2 linked regions of the Homo sapiens genome follow. The protein of the gene in region 2 interacts with the protein of the main gene of each other region in a biochemical or structural test. Each region holds a gene or a part of one and is shown on either strand. Other genes may lie near its edges.

What was found. Proteins that work in one complex are often made in the same cells at the same time.
Region 1: the proteins of TCERG1 (region 2) and CYFIP2 form a complex in vitro, tested with the Homo sapiens proteins (one study listed by BioGRID).

The regions. Positions count from the first base shown.
Region 1 is NC_000005.10:157,272,623-157,276,122, forward strand, and holds part of CYFIP2 (cytoplasmic FMR1-interacting protein 2), read left to right. Parts: intron 1-3,500. UniProt on the Homo sapiens protein: Involved in T-cell adhesion and p53/TP53-dependent induction of apoptosis. Does not bind RNA. As component of the WAVE1 complex, required for BDNF-NTRK2 endocytic trafficking and signaling from early endosomes.
Region 2 is NC_000005.10:146,457,333-146,460,832, forward strand, and holds part of TCERG1 (transcription elongation regulator 1), read left to right. Parts: coding exon 1-3; intron 4-1,551; coding exon 1,552-2,005; intron 2,006-3,500. UniProt on the Homo sapiens protein: Transcription factor that binds RNA polymerase II and inhibits the elongation of transcripts from target promoters. Regulates transcription elongation in a TATA box-dependent manner.

The DNA of each region.
Region 1 (3,500 bases), about 11 Mb from region 2:
TACTTCCTGCTGTGATGGATGGAGATTTCACTTTCTTACACCATCTCCCTCCCTCCCCTGCCCCCGTCTCTCAAGATAGGAAGAGCTCTATTTTAACCTAAATCAGGTTTAAAGTGTCTACATTATTAATATATATAAATGATGATCACAGACAGCCAAGTAAAGTCCTTTGATTATATTTCCTTTCTTAGAGGGCTTTTCATTTCGCTGCAGAATTTTTGTTGCAATACTTGTCTTTTTATTTATCTATTTATTTATTTTGAGATGGAGTTTCACTCTTGTTCCCCAAGCTGGAGTGCAGTGGCGTGATCTCAGCTCACTGCAACCTCTGCCTCCCAGGTTCAAGCGATTCTCCTGCCTCAGCCTCCCGAGTAGCTGGGATTACAGGCGTGTGCTATGACACCTGGGTAATTTTTTAATTTTAGTGGAAATGGGGTTTCACCATGTTGGTCAGGCTGGTCTTGAACTCCTGATCTCAGGTGATCCACCTGCCTCGGCCTCCCAAAGTGCTGGGATTACAGGCACGAGCCACTGTGCCTGGCCCTGTCCTTTTCTTTTAAAGCTCTGTGTCATATGAGTTATTCTATTGCAGTCCCTTGTCTTCTCAGGAAGTGCAGTGTTAACCCTAGCTCCACCCCTAACTAGCCCAGTGACCTTGCACAAGTCCCTTCTCTTTTCTGAGCCTTGGTTTCCTCATCAGTAGAAAGAGAGCTAGGCTCCCTTCTTGTTCTCATTCTAAACCTCAGAACCTATCACCCCACCCACCTCACAGGCAGTAATATTATTACTCCTCAGTTAATATTATCTGAGAAGTCTTTACTCCAGGGTGGGGCAGCCCCAGGACCTGACAGATGGCAGAGAAACCAAAACAGGCAGGGGCAGGGGGAGGGAACAAACAAGCTAGCTGGGCCTGCCCTGTATGGTCTAGTTCACCCCTGCAGTTTAGGGGGCTGCTCTGTGGGGTGGTATGGTTGTATCTATTACTCTTTTCCTCCCCTGCTATCCCCGTTGGTTTTTGCTCTCCACAGCCTCTGCTTGTAGGGGCATCATTTACAGTCCCCAAACTCCCCAAGCTCCTACTCTACCCCCAGCTCTCTTTGTACCCCTTCTGCTTATGTTACACTCAAAGTTTCCCAAAAAGTAGTTATAAAAATACTAACTTTTGGTAGCAGCTTTATTGAAATATAGTTTGCATACTGTACAATTCACTCATTTAAAAAATATAGTTCAGGGCAGGCATGGTGGCTCATGTCTGTAACCCCAGCACTTTGGGAGGTCAAGGTGGGTGGATCACCTGAGGTCAGGAGTTTGAGACCAGCCTGGCCAACATGGCAAAACCCTGTCTCTACTGAAAATACAAAAATTAGCCAGGCATGGTGGCAGGTGCCTGTAATTCCAGCTACTCGGGAGGCTGAGGCAGGAGAATCGTTTGAACCCGGCAGAGGTTGCAGTGAGTGAGATCATGCCATTGCACTCCAGCCTGGGGAACAAGAGTGAAACTCTGTGTAAAAAAAAAAAAAAAAAAAACCGTTCAGTGGTTTTTAATATATTCACAGAGTTGTACAACCCATAATCGTAGTCAGTTTTAGAGCATTTTAGCACCCCAAAAAGAAATCTCATGGCCTTTAGCACCACCACCTATTTCCCCCAACCCCACCCCTTGGCAACCATAGATTTGCCTATTCTGGGCATGTTTAATAAATGGAACAATACAATACGGGGTCTTTAATGATTCGCTTCTTTCACTTAGCATAATATTGTCAAAGTTTATTCATGTTGTATCAATATCAGTACTTAATTACTTTTTATGGCTGAAAAATACTCCATGTGGCTATACAATTTTTTATTTATCAGTTGATGCATATGTTAGTTCTGCTTTTTAGCTATTACAAATAATGGTGCCATGAACATCCATGTACAAGTTTTTGTGTGGACCTGTATTTTCATTTCTCTTGGGTGTATGCCTAGGAGTAGAATTGCTGGGTCAAATGGTAACTGTGTGTTTAAAAATTTGAGGAAATACCAATCGATTTTCCAAAGTTGCGGCACCATCTTACATTCCCATTAGCAACGGTATTCTCAGTTTCTCCACATCCTTGCCAACACTTGTTATTGTCTGTCCTTTTCATTATAGCCATCCTAGTGGGTGTGAAGTGGTATCGATTTGCATTTCCCTAATAACTAAGGTTATTAATCTTTCTGTGTGCTTATTGGCTATGTGTATATCTTTGGAGAAAAATCTGTTCCTTGCCTATTTTTAAAATCAGGTTCTCTTTATTAATGAGTTTTAAGAATTCATTTTTTAAATTTATTTTTATTTAAAAAAATTTTTTTGTAGAAACAGGGTATCACTCTGTTGCCCAGGCTGGTCTTGAACTCCTGGCTTAAGCGATTCTCCCATCAACCTCCCAAAGTACTAGGATTACAGGCATGAGCCACTGTGCCCAGCCAAGAATTATTTACATATTTTATATACTTAGCAAATACATGATTTGCAAATATTTTCTTCTATTCTGTGGACTTACTTTCTTGATGGCGTCCTTTGAAGCACAATTTTTTTTATTTTGATGTTTAGTTTATTTTTTATTTTGTTGCTTGTGTTTTTGTTGTTATTACATAATTCAAGGTCACAAAGATGTACTCTTATGAGTTTTATAGTTTTAGCTCTTACATAGATCTTTGATCCATTTTGAGTTAATTTATTATATATTACATTATTTATACCTCACACCATAAAACAAATTTTGCATGTGGGTATCCAGTTGTCCTAGAATCATTTGTTGAAAAGAATATTCTTTCTACATCTCTTGTCAATTGACCATAAATGTGAGGATTTATTTCTGGATTCTCAGTTCAATTCCATTAATTTAATCATTGTTCATTGTCTTCATGGTAACACCACACAATTTTGATTACTGTAGTTTTGAGTATGTTTTGAAATCAGGAAGTGTGAGTCTTCCATTTTTGTTCAGTTCCTCCCACCCCCAAGATTGTCTTGATTATCCTGAGTGAGTCCCTTGAATTTCCATATGAATTTTAGGATCAGCTTGTCAATTTCTGCAAAGAAACCAGATGAGATTTTCATAGAGATTATGTTGAATCTGTAGGTTAGTTTGGGCAGTATTGCCGTGTTAACAATATTAAGCCTTCCAACCTATGGACATGGGATATCTTTTTATTTATTTAGGTCTTTAATATTTTCAACAAGGTTTTATTGCTTTCAGAGTGTATGTTTTGTACTTATTTTGTTAAGTTTATTTCTAAGTATTGTATTATTTTTGATGCTACTATAAATAGAACTGTTTTCTCCATTTTATTTTCATATTGTGCATTGCTGGTATATAGAGATACTACTGATTTTTATATGCTGATATTGTATCCTACAAACTTGCTGAACTTGTTTATGACTTTCAATAGTTTTTAGTGGATTTTTCTTGGATTTTCTATAACAAGACTATGTTATCTGCAAATAGGAATAGTTTTACTTTTTCCTTTCTAAT
Region 2 (3,500 bases):
AAGGTAAATAATAAAATATATTTAAGTTGTCATTTGTTGACAGAGGAGTAAAACTTAAAGAGTTCTGGCAGATTGAGGTCAGTGATACTGTCATTTAAGAATGAGCCCTGGGTGAGCAGGGAATGGGGTAAGACTTCAGGAGAAGCTGACTGGATTTAGTTTTTGTGCAGCAGATATAAGGTTGCCTGGAGTGCTAACACACATTTACCTGTGATTCTGGAAGCTTCTGGTCACATTGGTACCATCTGCCTAGCACATACCAAATTCCAGGCTCCTAGAAGGAAAGCAGGTGTTCAGCGTAGCTGGTTTAGGCACATCGAGCCATTCTTATCAGTAAGGGAATGTCAACCCTCCTGAAATCCAAGTTCTTGGACTCCAGATAAGGGTCAGCAGGGCTTTCTACAGATAGCTGTCTCAGGTCTGTTATGTTGAATTTCTGCATAAAACATAACATGGGTTTTCCTTTGTGCTCATTATAGAAAATTGGGCTGTGGGGTGGAATTACCTATTTTTGTTGTTTTGTTTTTGTTTTTTGAGATGGAAGTTTCACCCTGTCGCCCAGGCTAGAGAGCAGTAGTGCAATGTTGGTTCACTGCAACCTCTGCCTCCTGGATTCAAGCAATTCTCCTGCCTCAGCCTCCTGAGTAGCTGGAGTTACAGGCACCTGCCATCATGCTCGGCTAATTTTTGTATTTTTAATAGAGACAGGGTTTCACCATGTTGGCCAGGCTGGTCTCGAACTCTTGACCTCAGGTAATCCCACCCGCCTTGGCCTCCCATAGTGCTGGGATTACAGGCGTGAGCCACTGTGCCTGGCCCTAAGTTATTTTATTTTATTTTATTTTTTATTTTTTTATTTTTGAGATGGAGTCTCGTGCTGTCACCCAGCCTGGAGTGCAGTGGTGCGATCTTTGGTTCACTGCAACCTCCGCCTCCCGGGTTCAAGTGATTCTCCTTCCTCAGCCTCCCAAGTAGCTGGGATTACAGGCGCCTGCCATCACGTCTAGCTAAATTTTTGTATTTTTAGTAGAGACAGGGTTTTACCATGTTGGCCAGGTTGGTCTCAAACTCCTGACCTCAGGTGATCTGCTCACTTCAGCCTCCCAAAGTGCTGGGATTACAGGTGTGAGCCACCGCGCCCAGCTATTTTTTATTTTTGAGATGGAGTCTCCCTCTGTCACCCAGGCTGGAGTGCAGTGGTATGATCTCGGCGCACTGCAGCCTCCACTTCCTGGGTTCAAGTGATTGTTTTGCCTCAGCCTCCCGAGTAGCTGGGATTACAGATGCCGGCCACCACACCTGGCTAATTTTTTTATATTTTTAGTAGAGATGGGGTTTCACCATTTTGGCCAGGCTGGTTGGTCTTGAACTCCTGACTTTAAGTGATCCACCTGCCTCTGCCTCCCAAAGTGCTGGGATTACAGGAATGAGCCACCACGCCTGGCCCTACGTTATTTTTAAATAGCTTTAAAGATAAAATATGGTTCCATTCTTGTTTTTAATAATAACTGACAGATTTTATGATACCATTGATTTTTGCTTCCGCTGCAGGTTTATTATTATAATGCTCGGACACGTGAATCTGCATGGACCAAGCCAGATGGAGTTAAGGTTATTCAGCAATCAGAACTGACACCTATGCTTGCAGCCCAGGCACAGGTTCAGGCTCAGGCCCAGGCGCAGGCTCAGGCCCAGGCGCAGGCTCAGGCCCAGGCACAAGCTCAGGCCCAGGCTCAGGCTCAGGCCCAGGCCCAGGCCCAGGCCCAGGCCCAGGCCCAAGCCCAAGCCCAGGCCCAGGCTCAGGCTCAGGCACAAGCTCAGGCCCAGGCCCAGGCTCAGGTCCAGGCCCAGGTCCAGGCACAAGTGCAAGCACAAGCAGTTGGAGCTTCCACCCCTACGACCAGTAGCCCAGCACCTGCAGTATCCACTTCAACATCATCATCCACCCCTTCCTCTACCACTTCTACCACAACAACTGCTACTTCAGTTGCGCAGACAGTATCAAGTGAGTACCACTCAGCATGTGTTTTTATATAGGGGCTAGAGACATGAACAAGTAGGGGACTACATTTCATATTGATCCCAGTGTTTCTGGTATTATCCTTTAATACCAGAATTATTTAAAATACATTTTTGACACTAAAACTTTTGGGTTAGAGGAAAACAGGAATTTATATTAACAGGAGAAATTATTTGCCCAGTTGCAGTTTATGAAGCTAAATTGAGAAAGTGCAAAGTTAGCTGTTCCACTTGGCCAACAGTAATGCCGGGCATTGTGGGTTTGCAAAATAAGTGTAAGTCTTGGTCCCTACCTTACAGTTTCCAGTATTCCTAATCGAGGAGGCAAGAATAACACGTGTTAAACAATTAGATATTGGTGTGCAAAACTATACAGTGAGAAAGATGTAAGAATTTGAGAAGTGGATAAATGAGTGGGTGGACTACATGGGTATTTATCATGAAGGAAACGGAGTAGGGTTTAAGCAGGTTCACAGGTAAGGAAAGGATTTTCAGGTAGGAGAAGCAACATGAATAAAGGTCAGGAAAATGATAAATGTAGTTTATGGGTTTTTAGGAAACTTCTGAGGTGAGAGGGTGTTTTTTTTGAAGGGTCTTAAGAACTAGGCAAATAGGTGAGACAGGCACTGGGGGCCTGTATAAATGCAGTATTTTGGAGGATTTTTTTTGGTGTTGGTTTTTTGGGTGGTGATGAAATAAGGGAGGTTTATTAGGAGCTTCTCAGTAATCTCTTTTAGAATAGTTTCTAGACTGGGATGCGAGTAGGTGAATTGAGGAGTTGCCATAGAAGGGAGCAGTCAGAAAGGCAGGAGAATTTTCAGGTGTAAACTCACAGAGGCCCAAAGAGTAGATCTTTTCTGAAAAGGTGAGAGTCGATTAATAGCAGATTTCAGAGATTAAGAGAGGGACACAGCTATTAATTTGCTTAAAAGATTGTTATTAATGTGACAATATTGCTTTCTTTTTGGGGGGTTTCTTTCTTTTTTTCTTTTTTCTTTTTTTTTTTGTATCAATATATGGATGTTGCTCCTTACTCTGCAGGTTGAGACTAAGCCCGAAAGTACTTAAATAATGATTTTTTTATTTGATTATTTGTTATGGCACTTGTCTCAAGATACACAGCTGTCCCTACAGTGTGATTATAATTTGTATTATTTTACTACCAGGATAATTGATAAGAATAAAGAAAAAATGTGGGGTTTTTTTGTGATTACTTCAGGGACTTGGGAATTATTAGTGTGTAAGAAATACGTATAAGAGAGAAATTAATTCACATTGGCTTCAAATTTGAATTTATTTTATTGATAAAAAGCAACTGAAGCAGTCAAGTAAGGTACATATAATATGGGGATAGCCTTTAAAGATCCTCTTAATGGTTTTTAGACATTTTGTAGCGGGGGAATGTACTGAACAGGAAAATATGAATAGTGTTTTACAAATCTGTTTGCTTTTGTAGTGAAGGTGAATTTTGATATGAAAGT